Homo sapiens: one gene and its partners. The protein of the gene in region 2 interacts with the protein of the main gene of each other region in a biochemical or structural test. Each region holds a gene or a part of one and is shown on either strand. Other genes may lie near its edges. The genes, in order: GRAP2, USP8, NFE2L2 and MAP3K7.

Evidence for each region.
Region 1: the proteins of USP8 (region 2) and GRAP2 form a complex in vitro, tested with the Homo sapiens proteins (one study listed by BioGRID).
Region 3: the proteins of USP8 (region 2) and NFE2L2 form a complex in vitro, tested with the Homo sapiens proteins (one study listed by BioGRID).
Region 4: the proteins of USP8 (region 2) and MAP3K7 form a complex in vitro, tested with the Homo sapiens proteins (one study listed by BioGRID).

What each region holds. Positions count from the first base shown.
Region 1 is NC_000022.11:39,903,863-39,911,336, reverse strand, and holds part of GRAP2 (GRB2-related adapter protein 2), read right to left. Parts: intron 1-7,474. UniProt on the Homo sapiens protein: Interacts with SLP-76 to regulate NF-AT activation. Binds to tyrosine-phosphorylated shc.
Region 2 is NC_000015.10:50,427,111-50,434,584, reverse strand, and holds part of USP8 (ubiquitin carboxyl-terminal hydrolase 8), read right to left. Parts: intron 1-7,474. UniProt on the Homo sapiens protein: Hydrolase that can remove conjugated ubiquitin from proteins and therefore plays an important regulatory role at the level of protein turnover by preventing degradation. Converts both 'Lys-48' an 'Lys-63'-linked ubiquitin chains.
Region 3 is NC_000002.12:177,261,512-177,268,891, forward strand, and holds the start of NFE2L2 (nuclear factor erythroid 2-related factor 2), read right to left. Parts: upstream 3,217-7,380; 5' UTR 3,066-3,216; coding exon 3,021-3,065; intron 2,621-3,020; exon of another isoform or gene 1,892-2,620; intron 1-1,891.
Region 4 is NC_000006.12:90,513,712-90,521,185, forward strand, and holds part of MAP3K7 (mitogen-activated protein kinase kinase kinase 7), read right to left. Parts: intron 5,609-7,474; coding exon 5,547-5,608; intron 4,852-5,546; coding exon 4,736-4,851; intron 2,971-4,735; coding exon 2,790-2,970; 3' UTR 1-2,789. UniProt on the Homo sapiens protein: Serine/threonine kinase which acts as an essential component of the MAP kinase signal transduction pathway. Plays an important role in the cascades of cellular responses evoked by changes in the environment.

The DNA of each region.
Region 1 (7,474 bases), on a different chromosome or scaffold from region 2:
TATGGCACTTGCTCACATTACAAATAATGTGTAAAATGATACTGACCATCACGTGATGTTACTACAACCAAAAATCAGATAAACCAGTTATATTTTTAAAATAACTGCAAAAATGAAGTCATTAACTTTCACACGTAGTGATCAGGATAATCAAGTCTTCTGAAAGCTGCTGAGAGCCTGAAATAAACTTTTTCTCTCCTCATCTAATGCTGCCTCTGAGTGACATTTCCTTAGGGTTTTGCAGACATCGAACTCATTGTCGCATATCCTCACCGCAAGGAGGAAATGGCCATTCACACTTATTCCTATCTTACTTAGGAAGATTGAGGCCCACTAGTTTGTCTAAGGATGCAGATTCATCCACGGTTGCAGAGAATTTATGGATAGGAAAGAGACAATGAAGTTCTGGCCCTTTAGAGGCCAGAGATCCATCATGAGATTAGCTGCACCAGCAGGTAAGTACTCACCTGCAGGGAGGGGAAGCTAATACCCTAGCTCTGAAAGATTTGGACAAGTTGTTATCAAAATGATCGAGTGAAATAGAAATAAATGTCTTTACATTTAAACCTCTGTCCTAGGGTTTTTTTTTTTTTTTAAATCAACAGTGTAAGTACAGAATAAGAAAGATCTGGCTGGGCATGGTGGCTCATGCCTGTAATCCCAGCACTTTGCGAGGCCGAGGCAGGCGGATCACAATGTCAGGAGTTCAAGACCAGCCTGACCAACATGGTGAAACCCCGTCTCTACTAAAAATACAAAAATTAGCCGGGCGTGGTGGCGGGCGCCTGTAATCCCAGCTACTCGGGAGGCTGAGGCAGGAGAATCACTTGAACTCACGAGGCAGAGGTTGCAGTGAGCCGAGATTGCGCCACTGCACTCCAGCCTGGGCGACAGAGCGAGACTTGGTCTCAAAAAAAAAGAAAAAAAGAAAAGAAAAAGAAAGAAAGATCTGGCTTAGTAGTAGTGCATGGGAACTCATGGGTTTTAGTTGACCACAATTTCGATATGAGTCAGCAGTGTGACATGGGTGCCAAAAGGGCTCATGCAATCATGGGCCATATTAATAGAAGTATAGGCTACAGATCAAGGGAGGCAACTACCCCATGGTGTTCTGCATCCTCAGATCACTCCTGGAGAGCGTTGCTCCGTTCTGAGTCCCGTGACTTAGGGGAGGCCCTAAGCTAGAGTCCAATCAGAGGCGGGTGCTTAAAATAATGGCAGCACGCAAAACTGCCTCATAGGAGGAGTGGTTACAAGAACTAAGGATATTTATGCTTGAAAAAGAAGACTTTGAGGGACATGATTGGAAGCAGGGGAAGAGCAGGCTATCTGGGAAAAGATCTTGAGGTAATTTCCAGTGGCAGAAGTTTAGTTTCTGGATTCCCCATGGAAACTTCACATGGCTCTTCTGACTCTTTGTTGTTTGCAAAATAAACAGATCTTCAGCAAAGAAGACCCTGTTTCTCCTATGATTTCCTTGAAGTGTAAAGCTTTGTGGATGCATTGATGCCTGCTTGCTAAACCATCTCTCTCAGCCTACAGATGCACCTCCTTCAAGAAGTTCTTTCTAAAAATCTCCATCTTGAGCTGTTTTTTAATCTCCTCATCAGTTTTGCATTGTGGTACCATTTTTTTGTTTGTTTGTTTTTCCTAGTTTCCCAAATACACTGTTCATTCCTTAGGGGAAAGGACCCAATGTTTTTTTTGCTTTTATTTCCCAAAGTGTTCTCAGTACGTCTGCATACCTGTGAGCTAGGGACTGAGTGAATTTCTGCAGACAGTAGCCAAAAGATGAATTAAAGTAATCAGACAGGTAATTTTTACAGCATCTACAAGACGAAGCATTACAGCATGCTTTCTTGATAATAATAACACCTAATTGACCCTTCACTTTATGAAATAATATGATCTGACAAAGTAGGCTGTATCATAAATCTCCCTTACGTCTTACATTTAAAAATGGAAGTTGTGGATCTTTGCTGGAGAAAAAGTCTGCTCTCTAAAAGCTCCATCTTTTTTGTTCCAGGTATTGGGAATTTCTTTTCAGCTAGGGGATTCCTTGACTTCACACTTTCTCCTTCTTTGATTATTTGGATACTTACAGGGTACCAAGTGTCAACTCATAAAATCTTATAGTACCCGGTTTATAAAATGAATTAGTAGTCTATTTAAAAATATTGATCTAGAAAATAAAAATTCCACAAAATGAGTTTGTTTACACAAGAAAGCACCATGTTCTGCATTGTACAAATGAGATATTGTTGGGGGTAGCCACACATGAATCTTCAAAAGTCTCTTGTATAGTGGGTTAAAGAATGGCATAATTTCACTCGAGGACAGAGGAGTCGATGAGGCACAGTGAGTCATCTGTGAGGCTGAGCACAGAACACAGGATACGGGAGCCAAGCTCATGCTCTGTCACTCTCATCACTGGTCAGTATAACCTCCCACAGTCCAGTGACCTGACACGGTACCGAGCAGATGATACTGTCTGCAACAAGTTGATCTAACTCCACTTGCCAGCCTGAAGTTCACTTAGAAAATTTGAAGCACAAAAAGACTGAGACACAGGGGCCCAATTTCCTATCAACACCTGTTAATCACAAATATTAGCACTTAGCTTGGATGACTCCAAAGGCCAAGGGAGAGTGGTGATGTCCTCCCCTAGTCTCAGGACTTCTGCATTCACAGCTGCAGGCCCTCTTGTGAGTCTCCAACTTCCAAGAACAATTCTGGGACATTAAAGGATATAACTGTTCGTAATAAAAAATCAAGGAGAAGGTTTTGTACCCTTTGAAAGGCATAACCTCTTTAGAAGGATAAGGATCTATCAGCCCAAAATAAGCCCATCAGCATTATTTACTTCCATATGACTCCCTGAACTACCCAAGAGGGGTAATAAAATCTCATGGGATGTCTGCCCATTGCAGAGCACAGGGTTGGAGTATAATTGATGTGGACAGTCAGCCCTGCAGCAAGTGAGGCAGCCAGCGGCATGACACCCAAGCAGCCCACAAAGGCACTATTGAGATGTTTGTAGTTTCTAATGGGATTTGGACATTGCAAGGGAATCCGTTAAGAATTGGATGCCAGCTCTTATGCCCTACAGGGAAGGGTGAAGGGTCTTGCCATCTATGGCAGAAAAGGTCATTTCCCTCTGTTCCCAGACCCAGTGGGATTAGGTGGTTTTCTGCAGAAAATCAAAGGGCTTCAGAGAACACACAGTCTAACCTCTCACTTGACTAAGGAAGAAACTGAAGCTCAGGGAAGTTAGGTGACTTGTTTAAGATCACGTGGGTAGCTCTGGTAGAGCCAGAATTCAGCTTTCCAGAAGCCCATCGAGGGCTCCTGCATCTCCAGAATCCTGTGTTTGGACCAGTGTTGTGGAAGGGGCCCAGCCTACAGCGTGACAGGCTTGGTGCTACGTCCCGGCAGACATTAGCAAATTACCTTGAGCAAGTCCCGGAAACTCTCCAAGCCTTGCTTTTCCCACTCTGCAGAATGAGAGGTAAAATCTGTGGTCTGTCTACCTCAAAGATCATAGCCAGATCAAACAAGATAATGGCAACTCTTTTTATTTACTTATTTATTTTTTGAGACAGGATCTCACTCTGTTGCCCAGGCTGGAGTGTAGCGGTGTGAACACGGCTTACTGCAGCCTTGATCTCTTGGGCTCAAGGGATCCTCCTGCCTCAGCCTCTGGAGTAACTTGGACTACAGGTGCGGGCCACTGGGCCTGGCTAATTTTTTAAAAGAATATCTTGTAGAGATGGGGCCTCACCATGTTGCCCAGGCTGGTCTCAATCTCCTGCGCTCAAGCAATCCTCCCACCTTGTCCTCCCAAAGTCAATGAGCCTGTACGACAACTCTTTTTAAAGCTCCATCAGGATCAGTGTACAATAACTCTAGAGAAAGACAATTTTTCCTATTCAGGATATATGGGTGGACACCAGGTGATTTATGATGGATGGACACCAGAATTTCCCACGGAAATTCTGTACAAAGTTGCGTAGGATAAGTGCTAGGCATCGTTGGTTTTTTTTCCCCATTGGGGAGAGTTTTCATAGTTTTCGTTGACATCTTGAATGTGTCTGTGACACTCCCCTTCCCCCACCCACCCCACCACTGCCAGTAAGAACCTATGTGCTATGGATATCAGCGTATTTATGGTCAACTTAAAGTACTGATATAAGGTATTAGATTTAGACAATTTTCTTAGTTGTCTCAATGTTTGGTTGAGATTCTCCTGTTATTCTTACCGATTTAATGATCTATATTTTCAAACAAATCTATTTAGCGGAGGAGAGCCTTTTCAGCTATCAGACTTTACATTTTGTTTTATAAAGGGTTAAACTGTGTGACCTATAAAATGATGAAGAGAAATTTCAAATTACAAGTCAGCCAGGCTTTCCACCCCACTTTGTACTTCCCTTGTAATATTTCCTAGTTATTTAGAAAGAGTTTCTTTAAAATCATATTTAACAAGAGAACTATCTACTTATTATTTACTGAGTTCCTACTGAGTTCTCAGCAGTTTGTTTCTAATATTTTCCCATAAAGCACTAGACAAAAAACACAAATCATGAACCATTTGTAGGCCGACACATTAAGCCCGTGGTTCTAGAAGGCTGGGGGGTGTGGAGAAAAACAAACGAAGAAGTATTATTCATGACCAATTGATCAATTAGGCTGCTTTTCATTAAAAAACATAAAAAGGCAGAACCAATTTGGCAATGACTGTGTTGGAAATGCAAAAAGAACCATTATTAATGCTGGATTTTTTTTTTCTTATTTATTTTTAGTTCTCTTTAGAAAATTACACTTGAGAGCTTTCTGTAATGGCCACTGAAGGAGTGGATAAGATTCAACTCAGCAGTCGAACCCTTTTGTAATGCTAATGAAGGAGCATGGACCAACACCTAGTTTATACAGCTTTTTCTCAATACAGTTTCAGAAGCCACAGGCTGACTTATGGAATATCTGAGTGTATGAGATAACCAACCAGGGAATTTACCTACTAACAACAGTCATCCATCGTCTCTTAAGGAAATCCACCATGGCCTTTTATAAATCTGACAATGGCTTATACTCTTGCGTTTTATGGTAAAATCTTATATAGTACAGAAATGTGAAAAATGAGAGGAAATTTCTCCCTCCTGATTATATCAAAATATCATCTTCCACCCCGAGGCTCTGAGGTCCCAGGTCTCATAACTCCCCGCTTGTATTGTTCCTTTCAGGGATTTTTTCCCCCCATTACTTCATAGTTCTCCTACTCTTTTCTGTTCCAAGTATTTTATGTTCAAGGTTTCTTGTACAGAGCCTTAAGCTATGTAAATGTAATAAGAGTACTTATCTGGGCTTAGTGGAATGCTGTTCTTATTCAGATGAATTAAACCTTAAATGTGTTTGGGTGGCAACCTCCCGGATTTTCAATAACTTCAAGTCTGAGTGTGTGTGAGGGCTACTTCCACTCAGCTCCACTTGTATCACTCCTCACTGCATGTGCCCATCATCAGAGAGAGTGCTCAGGAACCAGACAGCCTGGGTTCAAATCCTGGCTCCACCAGGTACTAGTTAAGTGACCTTGTGCAACGTACTAGACCTCTCCGTACCTCAGTTTCCTCATTGTGAAAAAAGGGTATTATTAGCACTTTCTTCATTGCACCATTAGAAGAAGTAGACGAGTTAGTACCTACAAAGTATTAGAACAATGCTTGGCAAATAACAATAATAACAGGCACTGTTTTAGGAACCTTAAATGTATAAATCGTTTACTCTTCAGAACAATCCCACGAGATAGGCACCATTAGTAATCCCATTTTATAGCTTAAGAAACTGAAGCACAAAAAGAATAACTCGTCCCAGTTCATTCGCTTAGTAAGTGAAAGACTGGGCTCACACCGAGGCTGTCTTGGCTCCACAGCAAGCACTCAATAAACATTACCTACTATTATTATTATTACCTGAACTTATGCACTCAATAAATATTTCCAGCCACTATTGCTGCTGATAATGATGAATTTGCATGTCGAGTCCATCTTCAAAGCGTATTAAAAATATATATGAACTCCAATGAAATAATCAATTTAGGCAAAGATTATTACCTAAAGTCACCGGGTGAGAGTTTGTTGGGAAATAGGATATTGCCACCATGCCAAAGTGTTTATGAGATACACTTTGAGATACCCCCTGAGAGTACTCGCTAATTGCAAAGGGTGAAAAAGTGCCTGTACAACAAGAGATCCTCTGAGCAAGATCACTACCTCAAGCCCTGATCAAACTTGGCATCATGCACAGTGGAACAACCTGGCATTCTGTACCTCCTGATAAGATGCAATATGGAGCACCCAGTGGCACCTTGCAAAAAACGTTCAATCAAAATCAAATCATGCTTTTAGTCCTAACTTGGAGCTTATGAGAAATAAAGTGGGTAGAGGAACAAATTAACCATGAGGCAACAACGAATTCAGAAAGTGGGACCTGGTACAAGAGAACTGGCGTAATCTTTAAAAACATCCAATGTTGAAGAAAGAAGCATGAGACCCAACTGCAAAATATGTTCTTATTTTTAAAAATTAGATTCTTTTTTTAAAAAATGGTATAGAAGACATTTGGGGGACAAATGGGGAAGGTTAAATCTGCACTAGCTATCAGATGATATTAAGGACTTACTGTTTATCCTCTTAGGCCTAATGATGGAATTGTGGTTAGATAGAGGAATGCCTTTATTCTTAGATGAGTACTGAATTATTTAGGAGTGAAGTATTATTTTATCTGCAACTTACAAGTAATTCAGAAAGAAATAGGTATAGATGGAGCAAATACGGCAAAGAGTTAGCAATTGTTGAACCTAGGTAGTGAGTACTAATATTTCAACTTTTCTTTATGTTTTATGTTCAGTTATTTTCTCACTATCTTTTCTTTTCTTTTCTTTTTTCCTCTTTTTGAGACAGGATCTTGCTCTGTCGACCAGGCTGGAGTGCAGTGGCACGATCTCAGCTCGCTGAAACATCTGCCTCCCGGGTTCAAGCAATTCTCGTGCCTCAGTCTCCCAAGTAGCTGGGATTACAGGCGCCTGCCATCATGCCCGGCTAATTTTTGTATTTTGGTAGAGACAGGGTTTCAACATGTTGGCCAGGCTTGTCTCCAACTCCTGACCTCAGATGATCTGCCTGCTTTGGCCGCCCAAGTGCTGGGATTACAGGTGTGAGCCACTGTGCCCGGCTGTTCTTCACTATCTCCTTAAGGTATGTCTTAACATTTTCTTTGGAGAGTATATAAGACTTTTATCATCATGCACTTCGTGATAGTTTCTTTTAATTCTCTAAAATTTTTGTTTATAAATACATATTTAAAAAGAAAACAATCTTTAAAAATTATTTACTGAATTCCTACTGACTCAAGTTTATTGAAACTTAATGTTAACACTGTTGAAGAGGACTTGGTGCCTAGTGCCAGGCCTGGCATATAG
Region 2 (7,474 bases):
AGTGGAAAAAAAAAATAACTAAGTATATGTAAGAAAAATTAACGTGCTTCTAACAACAAAAAATAAAAATTCTTAAGACGTGTAAACCTGACAAAGATAAAGAACTTCAGCCTTAGTCAAACAGCAGTGCTCCAAAAGTGAAATCCAAAAGTGTTGAAAATGAGTTAACAAAGAGAAAATGCAGCCGGGCGTGGTGGCTCAGGCCTGTAATCCTAGCACTTCGGGAGGCTGAGGCAGGTGGACTGCTTGAGGTCGGGAGTTTGAGACCAGCCTGGCCAACATGGTGAAACCTCATCTCTACTAAAAATACAAAAATTAGCCGGACGTGGTGGCGCACACCTGTAATCCCAGCTATTCAGGAGGCTGAGGCAGAAAAATCGCTTGAACCCAGGAGGTGAAGATTGCAGTGAGCGGAGTCTGGGCGACAGAGCAAGACTCTGTCTTTTAAAACAAAACAAAACAAAACAAAACAAAACAAAAAACCTTATGCTTCAAGAAGGATTGCAAGTGAAAAAAAAATAACTAAGTATATGCAAGAAAAATTAACATGCTTCTAACAACAAAAAATAAAAATTCTTAAGATGTGTAAACCTGACAAAGAACTTCAGCCTTAGTCAAACAGCAGTGCTCCAAAAGTGAAACCCAAAAGTGTTGAAAATGAGTTAACAAAGAGAAAATGCAGCCGTGCACAGTGGCTCACGCCTGTAATCCCAACACTTTGGGAGGCCAAGGCGGGCGGATCACGAGGTCAGGAGATCAAGACCATCCTGGCTAACACGGTGAAACCCCGTCTCTACTAAAAAGACAAAAAATTAGCCGGGCACGGTGGCGGGCACCTGTAGTCCCAGCTACTCAGGAGGCTGAGGCAGGAGAATGGCACGAACCTGGGAGGTGGAGCTTGCAGTGAGCTGAGATCGCGCCACTGCACTGCAGCCTGGGCAACAGAGACTCCATCTCAAAAAAAAATAAATAAATAAAGAGAAAATGTTCTTTCTCTGACATCCTTCTGCTCCTTTCTAAGACAAAGAGTAGGGATTTGATGACTGGAACCACAAAGTGAAGACTAAAAGGTAAAAAGTGAAAAATGAGGTTTGCAGTCATTCAAACTGGTCCTGATTTTAAGCAGGGATTCACACCAGCCACTCCTAAGGTCTTTGGCAATATTGAAAGGAAAGCAAAAGTTGTCTTTGTTGGTCACCCACCATCTCTCTCTATTTCTGCCCTTAGGCAGCAACAATACTCAACATAAGTATCTTCTCGCTGTCTTAAATCTCATAATCCACTCTACACTCGTTCTGTATAAGGTGCCACAAACAACTAAGTATTGATTAAATAACTTTTTTTTTTTTTGGAGACGGAGTCTCACTCTGTCGCCCAAGCTGGAGTGCAGTGGCATGAACTTGGCTCACTGCAACCTCCACTTCCCAGATTCAAGCAGCCTCAGCCTCCCAAGTAACTGAGATTACAGGCGCCCCGCCACCATGCCCCACTAATTTTTGTATTTTAGTAGAGACAGGGTTTCTCCATGTTGGCCAGGCTGGTCTCGAACTCCTGACCTCAGGTGATCCGCCCGCCTCGGCCTCCCAAAGTGGTGGGATTACAGGCGTGAGCCATCGTGCCCGGCCAATGAAATAACATTTTAAAGTAATCCTCAAGTATTAAGAAGGCTCAACCCTCTCAAGATTTAATCACTGCTAAAATGTATGGTATTTTCTGAGCAACTACTATGTCTCTAGCACTGTGCTAAATGCTTGAGGGCAGTGTTTTTAAAATCCATTAGAAGGTCATGATCAGCATTAAAAAAATAGCAAACATCAGACTATGTCACACATAGTAAGGTTAGGTACTGCTTCGTAAAATTGTTTCAGTTATGTACATGTGTATATGATATAACACTGGATGAAAATGTAAAATGTATTTCTTAATACAGGTGACAATTTTAAAAAAAGTATGAAAGTCTCACACTACAGCAATGTAACTCCAAGTATGGTCCAATGACCAGTGCTGATTGGGGAACTGTTTGTTATCAGTTTGTGATAAAATAAGAAGTTTGTGACAGAATGTAGATCAATTAAGCACACTGACCTTTTTAAAGTAGCAGCAAGACTTTCTCCATGCAAAAAGCAGTGCACTGACTGGGCGTGGTGCCTCACAGCTGTAATCCCAACACTCTGGGAGACTGAGGTGGGAGGACTGCTTGAGCCCAGGAGTTCAAGAACAGATATTTATGTTGAGTATTGTTGTTGCCTAAAGGGCAGAGATAGGGAGAAATGGTAGGTAGCCAACAAAGTGGGCAACAAAGTAAAGACAAAAAATTTTACAAAAAATTTAAAAATTAGCTGGGCGTAGTGGTGCACATCTGAGGTCTCAGCTACAAGAAGAAACAAACTTAAGTTCCATCTCTTCCATCCTTTATGGTCCCAGTTCTTGGAATTTGTTTCTTCATGTGAATCCTACAATGCTTGTGATCTATATCATTCCTTAAATACAGTAATGGGATCAACAGACAATTACTATAAGGCTTTAAAATCCTCATACACACGCAGTGCTCATGATGATGTGATGAGAGAGAGAACCTGGCCTTGAGGACAGAATTTAGCTAAGAACAGGGTAAGAAAGGAGGACATCTGGCTGGGCATGGTGGCTGACACCTGTAATCCCAGCACTTTGGGAGGCTGAGGCAGGCAGATCACCTGAGGTCAGAAGTTCAAGACCAGCCTGACCAATATGGAGAAACCCCGTCTCTACTAAAAATACCAAATTAGCTGGGCATGGTGGTGGACGCCTGTAATTCCACCTACTCAGGAGGCTGAGGCAGGAGAATCTCTTGAACCCAGGGGGCAGAGGTTGCAGTGAGCCAAGATCGCACCACTGCACTCCAGCCTGGGCAACAAGAGTGAAACTCCATCTCGGAAAAAATAGTAATAATAAGGAATATTACAGAAGTTATTGGGAAATAATCAATCGGATAGAGGGAAAATGTTGACATGTCTTTGGATCCCTGGCACCTATCTCAATAGTCCTCACATAGTCACCACTTTAATAAATGTTTCTCCCTGTCAGCTGAATTTAACTAAAAGGAAAAAAAAATGTTGACTAACAAGAATAACTAAATTATATTATGTAGGAGATGGAGTCACATTATGGAAGACTTTGGAAGCCATCCAGAATTCTTTATATTTGATTCAGCAGGCAATAAAAGCCAGTTCCTGATGGGAAAAATATTATCTCAAGATGGTCAAATTAGGGATATGTAAGTAAGATTGAAAGGAGATGAGAACAAGGGAATGATACTATGGAAAAGAGTAACTACAAGGTCACTGCAGAAAAGAACACAAAATGGTAGAAACATGCTTTGGTAACTGGTTGATCGAAACAGTATTTTCTCTTGCTTACACACACACACACACACACACACAGAGGCACACACACTGTACCCTGCAAAATATGAAGAGCAGTAGTGCTATTAACAAAAAAAGTAATACTGCAGTTTAAAACTGATCAGTTTACAGCAGCGTTTCTCAACCTTGCCATCACTCACATTTTGGACCAGATAAACATTTGTTGTGAGAGGCTGCTCTGTGCAATGTGCACTGCAGGATGTTTAGCAGCATCCCTAACCTCTACTAGACGCCAGTTTACTATCATCCTTCCCTTCCAGTTGTAACAACCAAAACTGTCTACAGTCATTGCCGAATGTGTCCTGGAAGGCAAAATTACCCCCAACAAGAACCACTGGTTTACAGCAAAGTAGGTAATTCGATGTGGAAAATGTTGAGTGTATGCCAAAGGAACATCTTAAGATGTAAATATTAACTAGAAATCAGTTATATGTGAGAGCAGACAGATATTAAATCTGTTTATCAACTAATAAGGCATCAATGTTGACTTTGATAATCCCTATTGTTTTGGAAGATAATTAAGTATTGACACCAAAATTATGTTATCTAGGATTTGGTGAACTGCTGGGCAACACAGTGAGACCTTATCACTACAAAAAAAAAATAAAAAAATAAAAAATTAGCAGGGCATGGTGGCATGCGCCTGTGGTCCCAGCTTCTCGGAAGGCTGAGGCCTTCCTTGAGCCTGGGAGGTTGAGCTTGCAATGAACCATGATTACACCATTGCACTCCAGCCTGAGCAATAGAGGGAGACCCTGTCTAATTGGGGGAGTCTTAGAATGCCATGAGAAAAAAAGAAAAGAAAAGAATAAACTAGCCCTAGTTCTTTATTTTTTTGAGATGACGTCTCACTCTGCTGTCCAGGCTGGAGAGCAGTGGCGCAATCTCGGCTCACCAAAACCTCCACCTCCCCGGTTCAAGCGATTCTCTTGCCTCAGCCTCCCAAGGAGCTGAACTAGCCCTAGTTCTAAAGAGTGACTGTCTAAACTGGCTTCAATTAGGTAAACAATAGATACCTACTATACACAAGGTGCAGTGTTGTGATACAGGGGATACTAAAAAAATACAACTCTTAATAAAGTTTCTGCCTCTTAAAATGAAAGTTAAGTACATAACGGTAACAAAGTAAAGTGTGGCTTAATGCTGTGATATAGGCACTTAGCAAACCAGGCCAATGTCTGTTTGTTTTATTAAGGACCATTCCCAGAAACTAACAAAAGGGTAACTGTTTTCCAGAATAGATGTCTATCTACATTTATAACTTTAATCCATTTCTTTTGTCTTCTACCTCATTAATTTTTTAACAGATGCAAAATCATTAAGTAGGGAGCCAGATCGTACTTAACATGCACCAAAAACATAGTTCTCAATCCCAGCTGTATGTTAGAATCAGTTACCTAGAGAACTTTAAAAAAATATTGATGCTCAGATCCCACTCCTAAACAATTAAATCAGAATCTCTATGGATGAGACATACACACAGGTATTTATTTTCTTATTTATATATTTAAAAAAATACAGAGTCTCACTATGTTGTCCAGGATAGTCTCAAACTCTTGGGCTCAAGTGATCCTCCTGCCTAGGTCTCCCAAAGTGCTGGGATTACAGGCATGAGCCAACCTCGCCTTGCCCACATAGGTATTTTTAAAAAGCTTCCCAAATGAATTCTAACACCAGTCAAGACTGGGAACCATCAATATAAGAATGAATATAAACATGCTGCTAGGAGCAACAAAATAATATGAAGGCAACAATTTGTTTCCAGCTGAAATCAGCATCTTAAATCATTCAACCTACCAAAATTTTAAAAAATCATTTTCATTTTTAAAACTCTGTAATTGAGAAATTAAAATAACACCTCCAAAAAAAAAAAAAAAAACACCTCCAGGATGCTTATGCCCATAACTCTTGTTCTGAAATTGGTATTATAATGTGTAATTATTTCATTTTACTCTATTAAAAAGACATGTGGGTTTACACCATTATTGGTATGTTTCAGAATTTAGTGTAGTAGTCCCCCCTTATCCATGGTTTCGCTTTCCATGGTTTCAGCTACTTGCAGTCAACCACAGTCCAAGAATATTAAATAAAAAATTCCAGAAATAAACAATTCATAAGTTTTAAATTGTGCACCACCTCACTTCGCCCAGTCTGTGACATGAATCATCCCTTTGTCCAGTGTATCCACACTGTAGATGCTACCTGCCTGTTAATCACTAAGTGGCCGTCTCAGTTACCAGACTGACTATAGCAGTATTACAGTGCTTGTGTTCAAGTAACCCTCATTTTACTTAATCATGGCTTCAAAGTGTAAAAGCAGAGATTCACGTATGTCAAAAAGAAGTTGTAAACTGCTTCCTTTAAGCAAAAAGGTGAAAGTTCTCAACCTAATAAGAAAAAAAACCAAAAACCTCATGCTGAGGTTGCTAAGATCTATGGTAAGATCTTTTATCTGCAAAATTATGAAGGAAAAAGAAATTTGTGCTAGTTTTGCTGTCACACCTCAAGTTGCACAAGTTATGGCCACAGGGCATAACTTTTATTACACTATATTGTTGTAATTATTCTATTTTATTATTAGTTATTGTTGTTAATCTCTTGTTACTAATTTATAAGTTAAACTTTATCATAAAAATGTATATATAGGGAAAACATAGTATATATAGGGTTCAGTACTATCTGTGGTTTCAGGCATTCATTGGAGGTCTTGAAACATATCCCCTGCAGATAAGAGGAAGACTGCTGCATTATTAAAAACTAAATTGTAGGCCCGGCGTGGTAGCTAACGCCTGTAATCCCAGCACTTTGGGAGGCCGAGGCAGGTGGATTGCCTGAGCTCAGGAGTTCGTGACCAGCCTGGGCAACACAGTGAAACCCCATCTCTACTAAAACACAAAAAATTAGCTGGGCGTGGCGGCATATGCCTGTGATCCCAGCTACTTGGGAGGCTGAGGCAGGAGAATTGCTTGAACCCATCAGACGGAGGGTGCAGTGAGCCGAGATCATGCCACTGCATCCAGCCTAGGTGACAGAGCAAGACTCCCTCTCAAAAACAAACAAACAAAAAACTAAATTGTAATGTGTTAGTCAAAAGAGACAAGGCTTAGTTAACCCTTATTCACTATACATGAGAACTGTTTTACTTGAATTAGTATGGTATTAGTCAGGTGTGCTGGCGTGTGCCTGCAGTCCTAGCTACTTGGGAGGCTGAGGCAGGAGGATCACTTGAGCCCAGGAAGCAGAGGTTACAGTGAGCCAAGGTCATGCCACTGCACTCCAGCCTGGGTGACAGAGCAAGACCTTGTCTCAGTTTAAAAAAAAAAAGGGCCAGGTATGGTGGCTCACGGCTATAATCCCAGCACTTTGGGAGGCTGAGGCGGGCAGATCACCTGAGGTCAGGAGTTCAAGACCAGCCTGGCCAACATGGCAAAACCCCATCTCTACTAAAATACAAAAATTAGCCGGGCATGGTGGCAGGTGCCTATAGTCCCAGCTACTCGGGAGGCTGAAGCAGAATTGCTTAAACCCAGGAGGCGGACATTTCAGTGAGCCGAGAACTCACCACTGCACTCCAGCCTAGAAGACAGAGCAAGACTCCGTCTCAAAAAAAAAAAAAAAAAAAAAATTAGTACGGCTATAAATGTAGAATTCCAAATAAGTTTAATATAATATTTCATCATTCAGTACTAATAAATTTAATATTATGGAACTGTTGCAGGCCTTACTTTCCATTTATTAATCATATGACTTTGAACAAATTCCGTAAATCACTCCCAATACCACCACCACTCTTCAGTTTACTTTCATCTGCAAAATGAAATAGGAACTATTTGTCTGCTTCTATAGGGTGACCATAGGTATCAAGTGAAAAAATATACAAAAACATGCTTTGAAAACTGTAATATGCCATTACAACATAAAGTATTACGGTTAAAGAAATTGGAAATGGGTCAGGCGCGGTGGCTCACGCCTGTAATTCCAGCACTTTCGGAGGTTGAGGCAGGTGGATCACAGGTCAAGAGATCAAGATCATCCTGGCCAACATGGTGAAACCCCATCTCTACTAAAAATAC
Region 3 (7,380 bases), on a different chromosome or scaffold from region 2:
GAGTCAAACCTGTTTGAATGCTACCTTGGCCACTCAATAGTATGGTCACCTTAGCAGGTCCTGGCCTTTCTCTATGCCTCTCTCCTAACCTTTCCTAACCTAATGCCTGATCTAACTATTATGCCTGGTTTTCCCAACCTGGAAACCAGGGATAATAATATTTCCCGTGAGGTTACTGTAAAATTATGCATGTGAAGCAATTATGTCTGGCACCCAGGGACGTGCCCAGTAACTTATCTATTATTATCTTAGTGCCAAATTCTTCCTGCATACTGAAAAGTTAACCCAGGCTTGAGGAACAGTTAAGGAGGAAATATTGACACAAAACCCCCTTTAAATGTCTTCAGTCAGGACAGAGGAAATTCCCAGAAAAAAAAATGTACTTGTTGGGTTCCTTTTTTTCATGCAGCTTTGTTAAACATGATTTATCCTCAATAAAAACAAATATTAAGAAAAATGATGCATTTGGCTTTCAACTTTTCCTGGTAATCCTAAAGACAGAGTCAGTTTTCCCCCCAACATTGCTTATAAGAACCCAGGGCAAGAAAGAAAGATTTCAAAATGGCCCAAGTTATTTTTAATGCGTAAAAGACTGATGTGAGTTATGCATTTATCCTCCTACATGCTGCTTCCACAACCTCTCAAGAGATTTTTCACATATCTAAAAAGTCAAGTTGTTCTTTGCTTAACATTCATTCAGGAGATGAGAGGCCTGTCCTATTTTTCTTTTGTTTGACTTAAAAATAATCTCATCGGTCTATTTCAATATCAACTTCATCCCTCATCTAGGAAAGTGCTTTATCTCTCCAAGACACCCTTGAAAAGAGTAATGGATGGTTCCTTCCACCTAATGGAGATACTGAATCTAAGGCTCTCCTTACTGCCCTGTTTATCAACACATCCTCTGCACAGAAGGTGAAAAACTATATCCTACTACCACTTCACACCTGGAGAGTTTTTTTTGACAAAAGGTCAAGAAAATGTTTGACTCTGTTCAAATCTTTATGGATGACAACAATCTAATATGAATCATAAACAAAATCAATTCTAAATTTTCTTGTTCTTTTTCTGTTTTCAAATATGCAAATCGATGTCTGATTACAAAGGTAGAAAAGCAGTTATTTTTATCAAACGTAATTGGAAAATACACACTTAATGCGGTACATATGTTTCACGCATTTTTGTATAAGGAATGTTATATTACACAGCAAAGAAAGAAAAATTCAAAAATAATAGAGGGCTGTAGACAATTCCGGAAATCAGAAAAACTAAAGTTCATTTTTATCATATATCCTTCAGTCAAACAAGCATTCCTATAGATAACTCTTGAACAGCAGCTATTAAATAAATCGGAAGGTACAATTTAATTCTTCACTAGTTGGAACCAGAAGAATACAATCCCAATGAAGACTGGGGAAAAGTTCAAGACAAACAACTTTAAAGGGGGAAAAAAGCACAATTAATACATTGTCCATAACTTAAAACTTTACAATAGATCTTTGGAATTAACCGAAAACTTTACATTTAACAGCATAAACGTATTTACTGTACATCAAGTACACATTTCCTTGAATTCCAATTTTTTTCCTAAAATTCATTTACAAAAGAAGTTAGAAATATAAATATCTACTTTTAAAGTTTCTACAAAGGATGAGCAGAAACTTCTTTTCACTTTTATAACAATTCACAGAAATTAGCAAGTGTTTTGAAACGCAAGCGTTCCACTCTCTGCCCCTGCAGAAGAGGGGGAACATGTTAAGAAATTGAGGCAAATTCTCAACTGAAAAGGAAACATATATAAAGTACTCAGGGGAGAAATAATAGCTGAAAGCAAAAAATTACTAACAGACTAAAAGCAACAGAAATTCTAATCTACACTCGCAACTCTTACCCTTGACAGCACAGAAGAGAATATCCCGTCTTACACATTTTGGAATTGCAATTCTGAAACGCTAAATCCAAAGACAAAGCCGCTCTGGGGAAAATAGCAATTGCGCAACAGATCAACAGCTCCAACCTGTCCCTTGGCCCTGGCGCGGCGAGGTTTGCACGCTATAAAGCAGGAAAGGGCCAACCGAGGGCTGCTGTGACGGCCAACCGAGCGCTGTCACGGAAGCCAAGGCCACGCGCGCGGTGAGCGCCACCAGGGGGCACCGCGTCCGAACTAGAAGCCCCGGGTGCCGCCGACTCCGGCCTCAGAGTCCACTGCCCTCGCCCGCACTTTCCCGCGGCGTTACGAGGGGCCAACTCCGGGTGCCCGAGCCCGAACCCCTCCCCGGCCGAGAAAGTGCGCGGGGCCCGGCTCAGCCGCCACACGTCGGGGCTTCTGAGCCCGCTGGGCACTTAAGGCGCTCCTCCCTCGTCCCGGGGCTGGGCTTTCAAGAGAGCTCAAGGCTGCCAGAGAGTGATCCGAGAGATGGATGACTTCGCAAAGCCGCGCCCACAGACGGCCCAGCGGGGTGAGCGCGTCGCAGCCCGCACTCAAGGAGGTCTTGGGGCGCGGCGAAGGGGCTCCGGGTCCCAGCCCGAAGGCGACCTCAGTTCCCCCGAGAGCGGCCCCGTGACTAGGCACATTTTTGCCGGCACCGAGGCGGGGGAGCCGCGCAGCCCCGGAAGGGCCGGGCCGCGCCGGCTCAGACGGCCAGCGTCCGCCCCCTCTTGCCCCGCCGCCCACCGGGCCGCTCAAACTTAGGGGCTCCGGAGTCCCAGCTCTCGGGCCCGGGGACGCGGCTGGATTCTCCCCCAAGGCCCACGCGAGCGGGCTCAGTCCCCAGACCTTCCCGCAACTTCCCACCCGTTCGCCCTCGGGCTCGTGGTCGGTCGGATCACCCGGCCGCGTCCCCGCTGCCCCTCCCCGCCCTGCCCCGGCGCAAGCGCGGCGGCTCTACCCAGCGCCGCGGTCCTGGCTCTGGCCAGACGTGGGGGAAGCCGGTTGCGGCTGTCCCTCCCGGGCCGCGGTTCCCTAGCTCCCCCGCCCCCGTCCCGGCACCACCGCAGGGCCCAGAGGGCCGAGGCAGCACCTGCTGGGACGGGAGTCCCGGCGGCGGCAGCTCCAAGTCCATCATGATGAGCTGTGGACCGTGTGTTGGGGCTCCCCGACGGCGGCCCTGTTCCGGCTGCCGAGGCGCGGCGCGGACAGGGCGGCTCTGGTGGCGGCGGCGGCGGCGGTGGCGGCTGCGTCGGCGGCTCCTCCGGGCTCCCCGGCACTCGGTAATCGGCTACACGCCGGCGGGCCCCTGCCCCGCTCCGCCTCCCGCCCCACAAGGGCGGGGCAAGAGTCCGGGCCCTTCCTTCCCCCGCCGGCCGCGCGGGCTGAGCTTCCGAAAATCCCCCACCCGCGCCGGGGCTGACGCAAGAAGCTCGCGGTCCGGGGGCGGGAAGGGACTGCCAGCTGGGGTCCCAGCAGGCGGGGGACCTAGAGGAGGTCTCCGTTAGCTCCCCGGTGCCGGCGTTCAGTTTGCCCTCCCCCGCAAATAAGGGCAGCGCTCTCGCCCGCGAGATAAAGAGTTGTTTGCGAAGGTCGCTGGAGTTCGGACGCTTTGAAACAGTTTAAACAGTTGGAACAAACACACCCGGAGCCCCGGAAAGGCGTTGGTGTAGGAGCTGCGCCTCCCTGATTTGGAGTTGCAGAACCTTGCCCTGCTTTTATCTCACTTTACCGCCCGAGAATGGCGCCAGCCGGGGTGGGGGGGGCTAAAGATTTGGACCCAGACCGTGCCACTGCCAACTGCCCTCCCGCCCTTGCTCCCTTCCCGGGCTGGGGCCAGTGGGCCCTGCCTAGGGGAGATGTGGACAGCTCCGGCAGCTCGTGTTCGCAGTCACCCTGAACGCCCTCCTCTGAACTCCCACGTGTCTCCATTCTCCTAAGCTCAGGTCGTCAAAGGCAAACGGAGAAGCCCCTTTAGGTCGGAGAGTGGTCAGTATTGCCCACCCAGAGCTGGGAGAAAAACGGGAACCCCAAGAGAACCTCTTCCCACCAAAGCGCAGCCACCACGCCACAGATGGCGCCCTTCAACAGTGTGTAATACCACAACATGCTGTAATCGTTTACTCTTTACAAATTTCTTTTTCACGTACTCACAAAATAGTACAAATTAAAAAAAGTTACAAAAACGTTTGTATAGTATTGGCTCATTTTATAAAAACGTGCCTAGAAAAAAATTGAAGGTTACCAATATATTAAATGCTGTGGAATCAACGATTTTTATGTTTCTCCTTGTTACTTCCAAGTATGCTTTAAATCTGCAGTGCGTATGTTTTATGTCTTACATTAAAAACAATTATTTAAAAATTAATCATTGCCCAGAGAAGACTTCAAGTATTTGAAACGAGGAATATTGTGAACTCTTATAAGGGTTCAAAGAGGATAGATAAATGGTTTAGTTTTGTTTTTTTCTTCCTCTTCTGCATTTACAATCTTTCTAACTCTATACAAGACTGGTTTTCAGTTTCTAGCTTCCTGGAATTATTCAAAACCAGGTGAAGTAGATAATACTGGCAGTGGTTTTGCTATTTCATTCAAAAACCACACACACACCCCTGACTATAGCAATCAACGCCCAAAAAGCTGCAGAGCTTACTTTCTCTAGGTTGCATAATTTGACACTCCCAGGATTTATGTGTAAATTTGTATATTCAGATATTCCTTGAGATAAGTGAAGCCTAAATTAATTACTTGTAATTGAAGCAAGCTTCTTTAACTCCTATTAATTCCTTTCAGCTGTTATGTGAAAACCCTGCAACATGATCTGCACAATGAAAACAAGTTAGGAGAAAACTGTTTGCAAAGGACCTCACATGAAAGATGCAGAGACATAATAATAAAATAACATTTCTGAGTCCAAGAAAAAGACAAGAGTAAATTGTTAACAATTCAAGTTACTTATTAAAATTACGACATCAGAGAAGGTAGACAATGAGCCTAGTAGGTAGGAGATACCAGAGTCATATGACATGGTTACTGCTCTAAAGGAGTTTATAAAGTATTTGGTATTTCCTTGTTAAGCCACAAAATTTCCATTGAGTTTAGACTGAATGAAATAACCTTCACTTTTCCAATGCTGCAATTTGCTGAGAGTGTGTTATTTCAGGCATCTGCAGAGTACATATTTTCAAAGGGAGGGGAGCAATATGATAAGAGTTTGAACTTGTTTAAGAAAAACAAACACTAAGGAAAAGCTGTTTGGCATTTGGTTTAGCCAAATAAAGGGAACCCCATTCTCAAGACCACCCACGTCAAGGAGGTGCCCAATCTTGGCAGACTCTGGAATGTGATTGTCTTCATATGAGAGCCTGAGCCCTTGCTTTGCCCTCCAAACCTGCCTATTGTGTTAGGAGGGCACAGATAATGCATGTTGAGAAGCTCTGGAGGAGCAAGAAAGAACAAGAAAGAGGAGGTGCTGGTTTTTCTCTCCTGTCTTGCTGCCATGGGATCCTTTTTTGCTGCCAGGCTCTCCTCGCTACTATTTGGGAAAAATACCCTCCAATTGGTTTTATGTTCTATTGACTCTTGTACCTTTTCATTGATTCCTGAATCATTTGCTGTCTTTGGGAAGACGGCCTTCCCTACATGCTTGAGATGTGTCAATTGTGATACCTTGCTCCAGATTGCTCATAAAAAATAAGCATCATTGGCCAGGTGCTCTGGCTAACGCCTATAATCCCAGCACTTTGGGAGGCCGAGGCTGGCGGATCACGAGGTCAAGAGATCAAAACCATCCTGGCCAACGTGGTGAAACCCTGTCTCTACTAAAAAATACAAAAATTAGCTGGTTGTGGTGGCATGCGCCTGTAGTCCCAGCTACTCAGGGAGGCTGAGGCAGGAGAATTGCTTGAACCCAGGAGGCGGAGGTTGCAGTGAGCCGAGATCACGCCACTGCACTCCAGCCTGGCGACAGAGTGAGACTCTGTCTAAAAAAAAAGTATCATCAAGTAAGTCTTCTGGGTATAAGAAGTCTGGATAATGGTGATGCATTGACCCCTTAGTTCCACCTCCTTTGTGCTCCAATCTGCCAAGTTGCAAGGTGCAAGAAAGTACCGATTGTTTCAAAATCCTCCATCACTTTGAGGCTTCTTCCTCTCTCTGTCACTTCCTCTCAATTGTTCTCCATGTTTGAGCCAGAAAATATTCATAATCTTTTAGAATTGTAGTTGAAATTCTACTTTGTCCAGTGTAAAGTATAGAAAGCTTCCAAAGATGGCACCCAGTAAACCACCTCTCCTGATATTGAGGCATTTGTCTAGTCCCCTCATATTGAAACAAGCATGGCTGGCCCTGCAACTTGCTTTAAGGTATGGAAAGAGGCCAGAAGTGACATTATGCCAGGTTTTAACCTAAGCTTGAAAAAGCCCTGACAGCTTTTAATTTTATACTCTTGGAAGTCAGCCATCATCCTAAGAGGTCTGACTACCTTGATGGAAAGAGAGGCCATGGGAAAAGTCATGGAAGATGAAACTCTAAATGGAGAGAGAGAGACTATGTGAACCAACACACCAGACATGTGAATGAAGAAACCATCTTGGACCTTCGAGCCCACCTATTCAAGCCCCCAAAGAACTCCAGCTCCAGCTGCTATATGACTGCAGTCACATACAAGAGACTGTAAGCAAGACCGGCAGAAGACTCCCTGGCTAAGCTAAGTCAACACCAAGAACTGTGAGAAATTATAATAAATCACTTTCAGCTATTAAATTTGGGGGTGGTTTGTTTCATAGCAATTGATAACCAAAACAGCATACTGTATGTATGGTGACTATCAAAGGCAGGGTTTCCCCTGGCTGCTCTTTGTTTGTTAACCAACATTGGGAGCACAAACAGGGAGATGATACTTGGTGATTTAATAAAACTCAGACTCTCAGAAGAAAATGACTTCCCTGGGAATGAGGAAGCTGTCTTTCCCATAACATATCTTTGTTGCTACATACAAAGTAAAAAACCTCATCACACCATGCATAAGTTTCATTTTATTAGACGATGGAGAGATAGTCTCCTTATCAAAATACACTTCACGAACACAGACATTTTATCAATGAAGTAGATGGAGGGATAAATGCATACAGAGGTTCTGACCGTGATATGACCTCATTTGTGCCAGTTATGTAAGATACTCGCTGAATATCTGCTTAGGGAGTTTGAACTTGAGCAACCTGCCCAGTGGATAAACTAAACTCCAGTATAGGCCAGGCGCGGTGGCTCACACCTATAATCCCAGGGAGGCCAAGGTGGGCGGATCACCTGAGGTCGGGAGTTTGAGATCAGCCTGACCAACATGGAGAAACCCTGTCTCTACTAAAAATACAAAATTAGCTTGGCATGGTGGTGCATGCCTGTAATGCTAGCTACTCAGGAGGCTGAGGCAGGAGAATTGCTTGAATCCGGGA
Region 4 (7,474 bases), on a different chromosome or scaffold from region 2:
GAACTTACTACCATTTGAAGACAGGAGTTGAGCGCTGAAAACCACACACATTTATAGAAAGAAACCAAAGTTTCACAGGGAAGACCTGTGATCTCTGGCTACAGGAGCTGAAATTAGGAACATGAAAGAAACTTGAAGAGAGAAGACATTCAATACTCTAAAATACTTCAGCAAAAATAGTCAAACATCCGTAAACAACTTGTAACAAATCTTTATATGTTGTGTTGCTATGCGGTAAATATTCTTAACTGATTATTATTCAACTCAAAAAAGTGATTTTTATTGCTCACGAATACTTCCCTCTAGATTAGATAAAAGCTTGCTTTCTTTTCCTGGAGTCAAGAGTAAAATGTAATTAATGTAATTAGGGCTTACTCAGTGATTGTTTTTGAATTTCTTAGACTGGGGCATTCCAGCCACTTGCTTGGCTGTTTGCAATTTTCACCCAAAAAACGGTCAAAATAAATTGTAAAACCAGAACGAATAAGTTTGGCTCCTTGTTAACATTTTTATTTGCAGGATGGATGAGGAAACTGATGAAACTGGCTGTGGATTTTAATTATCCCTGGTATCTTTTTCTCCCATCTCCAAGGATCATCAGGACTTAAAAGCATGAAATTGACAACACAACTACTTAAAAACAGAGTAAGGCTGAACTGTACTCAATGTCCAGGGCAACTACAGTACTGAAAATCTCAAGGAACTTACTGTAAACAAACAAGCAACTGTTCAACAGCCTCTTGCATTTGGTACCATGACTAAAATCTACTATTTTCTTCCATTTACCTATCTGGATATTTTTATGAAATGACTACATGTAAAAACCATAATAAAATTTCCCTTAAATGTGTTATAATACAGCAAAACACATCAATGACTATAAATAAAATCTGAAATCTCGAATGCTAAATCCTAATGGAAACATCAAGCCTTAGCATTCACGCTTGGATATCTCGTGCTGAGATAAAAGGCCTCTTTAAAGTGACTAGGTCCCTTTCAGTGGAGTGACAGATGTACATACAAGCAACAATGCTATGGAGGAGTCATGCTTTATCCTAGTCTACAGTTATTTTCTCTGCCAATTTTATTTTACTATTACTATGCTGAATCCAATATCTGTTTCAGCTAGGTAATCAAATTTGGGAACAATTAACACTCCTTTTATTTAAATTAAATGACAGAAGACATTTATTTCCAGGAAGCTTTCTAAAATAGCTTTTGAAGAAGCTAAAAATAACAGTTTAGTATTCACCTGTATTGCTTGTATACACAAGGAATTCATTACAAAACTCAGTGGTAGGAGGAAAAAATAATGGAAGAAAAAGTTACCTGCTTTAGCATTTTAAAGAATAGTTTTGATAACTTCTTAGATCTTGCTTATCTGAAATAGAGCAAAAACTACAATACAGTCATGATAGAATTCTAATAATCACAGCAATTAATGCTTTCATTTTGAACTTTTTCTTCATAAAACATTAATGCTATAAAAATCAGACTGATGACATCCTTATTTAAAAGACATCTTGTACTGGTATCAAAATGTGACTTATTTTAACACCAACTGAAAAAATATAGAGTTTGTATAGTCTATTATTTCAGTGTCATTTTATTATTAAAGTTATTCTGAAGGTTTTGGTAGCAAAATTACTGTTAACAATATAAATACTCTGTAAGTGTTGAAATTCTCTTGAAAGTGTTGAAAGGCGGCAGGCATTCTAGAACGGGATTGTAAGGAAAATCAAATATTCCAATATCCAGGATAATTAGGACACTTGTTGAATTTATATTTGCTTCTTTAACTTCCTTCTGATTTGCCTGGTTTATTTCTCATTTGGTATCATAAAAAGAAATCTAAGTCCAAGCTTTTTTTAGCTGGAGTAATTACTTCCATTTTCCATTATTTTTCTTCATTTTTTTTTTTTCAAATACATGAGAAAACAATCCAAGAATCACTGCAGGAAGAAATGATCATTTAAGCTCAATCATGTTCTTTTGCCTTTTAATTTCATTTAAGAGATTAATATTAGAGTCATAAAAGCTTTACAGTTTCAACACACATACACACAATCACAGAATTAAAAATCTTTACTCCTTAAAAAAAAATGAGTTCCATTTTGTTCAATGTATCACAATCAAATTTTAGTCTAACAAAATCCGGTAAAACTGCTTTCATTAAATAGAGCAGCTGCCACTTACCTTTACATATTTTACGGATGGAACTGAGTTCAGTACTGATCCAAGGATGCTGGCATCAAAGCCCTTACACGGAACTATCCCTAAAGGTTCCGTATTTCCGTAATATACCACCAATCACTCTAAATTTATAATACCCTGTCTTTAACTTGGTATATACCATCTTTTGGGAAAAAAATTATTAATATTTTGAGATGAGATACAAGAATAAAGTCATTCTTGAGGTTCCACCTCTAATATGAAAAAATGGACGCTGTTTGCACATAGCAGCTAGTTTGATACCTCCTGTTCTGTTAGGCTAGCCTTCACACAATGAGCATGCATATACAGCCACAGTTCACTGCATCTGTTTTGAAGTTGCAAAGTGCTGCTCATTCAAGTCACAGATGCTACCATGTTATGCAATGAAACAGTAAAATTGTATGTCCACCATGAGAAAAGGAAAATAAACAATGAAAAAAATGCAGCAAATATAGGCAGTTGGCATTCAGAACACGCCAAAAAGCTAACACTCATGAATCGTCATTATAAGGTTTTCCTTTCCTTAAAAAAAAAGTCTTTCTTTGCATATTTCAAAATGTAACGGTCCCAGAGAATCATGAAGTGCCTTGTCGTTTCTGCTGCTGACTTCTGATGACCTCTAGTTGTTTTTTGCATTGCTGGTAGTAAGTAGAAAGGCTTTTGTTTTCATCTAAAAGCTTTTTATGTTCCTGTACCAGGCGAGATGTATTTTGCTGGTCCTTTTCATCCTGGTCCAGTTCTGCAACTAGTTCTTGCCTACAAACAAATACCACATAATATTACACATGATGGAAAAATTCATACCTTAGTAGCTGATGATGGAAGCTCAATTAATGAGAATTTTTATTCTTGGTTTATCATTTTGCATCTTAGGTACACTAATCAAATATAATTATGGGCTGGGATGGAACTCTCATCTACTTCTAGTGTAATCATACAAATAACATAATCCTTTTATTAAGTAACTGTACTTGGATAATTAGCGAAGCAGATAAAATGGTAAAATAAAAGTTTCAGAAAATTTCATTTTCTATCCTCTTTTTGTGTAGGAAGGATGAAAAAAGGCTGGGAAGGGTTCTATGTGGCTATGGGAAAATATCATGAAGTTTTTATCCTTCACATTCTACTTTTATACTGATTCACATTCTGAAGTCACAATCCTACTTAACTATAGCAGAGAGTGGTAAGCTAATAGCAAATTTGCAATCTAATTAAAATAAATGCTATCCAATTTAAAGCTTTTTCCCATTTTAAAGCAGTGAGAAAAATGACAAAGTACCACTTCTTTTAAAACACTTACATTTGCAAGCACTTTCAGGAAAGACCCTCATTCTTTTATAGTCTGATAAACTTATTTAAGTCCCTCTTATTTGGGAACTATTAAGTATTCCCGAAAAAGATGCATCTTTAGGCATTTCCTAAAGTGAGGTTACTGGATATAAATGAATAATTAATAAAAAGTCCTCAAGCAAAATAACTAACTAATACTACTTCTGAAAGTATTTAAAATTGATTAAAACTGTCATAGTTTTCACAGCCAACACCCTAATCCACCATTTGTTTTTTCCAGCATAGAATACTTCTTTCAAATGATTAAAGTATGGCAAAAGTATAGGTTAAATAAGTGAAATAAGAAATCAAGCTTTTTCAACATAAAAGTGCCAGCAGTTTGATAATTACTTCTACGATTTCCAAACTGTAGTATTTAATTTCCTATTTAGGCTTACCTTTCAAATACCAGGTTGGTTCCATTTAAATCACTGTATCAATAAATTATGATAAAACAATTTTTTCTCTCTTTTTTTTGAAGTACATACAGAAAGCTTTTCGCAAATTCAGAAAAAAACAACTTTCATTTATTTAGATTAAAATTAATGAAGGGAATCCTATTATCATACATATATAAAGTTGCCAAAATTTTTTCCTTATCACTTCATTTTAGTTACCACCAACAATTCAGTTACCTAAGTATAAAATTTCATGGAGGTCATGCTTAAGAAAACTGAAGATACATACATATTTAAGAACTGTGAATGCAGTAGTAAGGAAATTAGGCTGTGTTTCTTTAAAAAGGGAGGAAGGCAGTTTCTATAACTCCTCAGAAAAACACTCAGTTATGAAATACAGTCTTTTAATAAGTAATCCAATTCTAAACATACACCTGGAAAAAATGTATCTACAAAAATGTTTCTAAGATAAGGCACAACTGAATGTTAATAAATCAAATTATTTTATCTATTTACAAGAAAACAATAAATCTTTATAATAATAAGTCTAAACAGCTCTGAGAACATAAAACAACAAGTATAAAGCACCAGTTTATTTTCCATAGCACTAATATGATAGTCAAAAGGATTGAGTTTTGCATAAAAAATTTTTAGTAAAAGGGTGCTTAAAGCTTAAACAAGTTGAAAGTATACTTAATGACTAATTCTAAAAACTACGTTTTCATTGCACCTTATCATATTTTAAACTCAAAATACTAATGTATTTTTATTTTTATTCATAAAAAATAACTTACTTTCTCTGTAATAACAATGCAATTTCTGTTTGAACTTTCATATATTCTTGTGCCATTTTACAATGCTGTTCAAACACTGCCATAGATTCTTTGGAGTTTGGGCACGGTGCTAGAGGCTGAAAATAATCAGGAATGTTAAAACATAATTAAATCAAATTTCAATATCTAGCTAAGATGAGAGTCAAGACAGAGACTGTGATATATTTTTATAGCACTAAAGCAATGATCTTTTAAAAATAAGTGTTAAACCATGCCCTAGAAAATCTCAGTGTCCTTTTGTCAGAATTAACTCAGCATTTAAATCTATTCTTGCTGTTTTAACAGTCTGTTACAGAGAATCATGATTGTTGGAGTTGTAGTCTCTGGTATGACATTTCAGGCTGCAAACAGGCTCAAACTAAATGATGTTTATAGCCCTCATACTCATGAGGGGGCACTGAAGTATATTATTTACATTTTCAGTCACTATGAACATGAGAATGTATCACAAATGTATTAAATAGAAATAAGCTTATGAGTTTTGTTTTAATGCACTAAAATTAAAGAGTGAAAATGTAATGCTTAGCAGTACTAAAGAAAGATACTGGAGGATTTTAAGATGACTGAAAAGATAAGAATATGATTCTGCCAATTTAAAGTTTGATTAACTTAACCAAAAGAATTATTTTGATTTGATTCTAAAAAGTTTAAGGAGGCCAACTAAAAGGATAAATTAAGGAGTGACTATACAATGACAGGTAGCAACACAATTGTCAACTTAAACTCTCTAAGAAGAAAAAAGTCAACTTTCAATAAGAAAGTACTCCTTTACCTGTAGTTGGTGATCCAGTGTAAGATAAGCCATTGGGATGGAGTTATCTGATCCATTGGTATCTGGAATTCAAGCATGTATTTTATTGATTTTCTGTCACAAATAATTATAAACGAACAGCAAGAAAGCATGAATGAAATGCTTTTTTTCCCTAAAGTAAATAATATGTAAATTAAAAGTTACAGCTATTGGTAATTGAAGAGTCTATTTCTGAATTCTAAAGGTTAAAAAAAGGATATTCAATTATCAGATATTAGAATGCAATTATATTCTCATACCTATAATTTAAGTTGGCTATAAACTGAATAGAACACAATATATTAGAGCTTCTAAGCTCTTAATTAAAAACAAAAACAGTGATGAGACCTTTATATTTTAAATTCAGTCTTAATTGACCCTATCTAATCAAACTCCCCATCTCTTTTCTTTATCATGCTAAGTTTATTTTATAGAAGGCTATATCAACTCCGCTAATATCAATGTTCCTTAACAGGGAAAGGGAGAAAGCAGAGACACATTCTCTTCCAGTGGATCATTTTCAATTTATATAGATTATAATGTGACCTCCACCACTCATCCTGCCCTTCCCAGTAAGAATCACTGCAGAAAACGAGATGTTGGTGATGAGAGTATATTACAAATACGAACAGTAAGGAACCAAAATGAGGTTGAAACCTGTGGCTCAATGTCATGCCGAAAACAGTTAAGTTGATTAATTCAAACAATCAGTCAATTTTATAAAATTATTTGAATAGAATGCTTTTGTTTATATTTCAAAAGAGGTAAAACTGCCATACAACTTGACTGAGATGCGTGGGACAGTCTCTTCTCAACATTTATGGTTATGTAGAACAGTTCCAGAAGTAAACAGAGTAACTCTGAAGCAATACAGACTTTTCTACTTCAGAAGTAGTTGCTTTCCCACTGTTAGTAGACAAAAAAAGAGCTAAATGAGTGAGCTCTTCAGCCTTTTTCTGACGAATAACTCCTTGAAGGAGTGGTGTGGATAAAGGCAAGTCAGGAAGACAGCAGACGCACTGTATGCAATCCAAAAAAACTCAAGAAGGGTTGCTGGCTCAGTAATCTTCTAATTTATTGTCAACTGATAATCCAGGTGTTTTTTTTTCTTTTTGCTTTTGTTTTTGTTTTTTTAAAGCCACTGAGAACGTGCTCTCAAGAAACTCCAAAAGCTAATTAGCGAAATCAGACCAAATGAGCCAGTGCATGTGAGGAACACCATGCAAATCCTGGCGTATATTAAGCACTCAATACATGACGGTAGTTATCATTATTATTCATACTAAATGGAGAATTAGAAAGAACAATTTAAAATAGTATAGTATGAATTCCATATTGAAAAAGTAATGTTTATTAAATATTGCAGGGCAATACAGAAAAACAGTAGAGACTTAAGGCACTTACCCTTACCCTTAAGGCTCATATACAGTACTAACATAAATGTGTGTTTTTCTGAAGTGGCTAAACAAGAAATATACTTAATTTGTTATTTCTCTGACCAACTCTTCTCCCACCCCAACAGTGGTTTCAAACTACGCTCCCACATAAACACTGCTTTCCACAAAACTAAAACTGATTAAAAATGACTGATTTCCTCCTGATTTACTAGAAAAATTTAAGTGTCTTGAAAAAGTTTCAATTTAAGATTTCCATTCCTATTATTCTTTCTTAAATCACTGATACATTATATATCTCATTATATCAGCACCCTGTATCTGATATGTATTTTAGAATTAAGCTTAATACATCAGTGTTGCGTGGTATTCTGGGAGCAGAAAAAAAGTCCAAGGATTGTGTTATTCAAATAATTAAAGCCCTTGTATGGTGGGGAACTTAAGGTCCTTCATTGAATTTCATCTTCTCTCTAAAAAAAGAAGTGGGATTTCACTTTCTCACTTTACACTAAATTG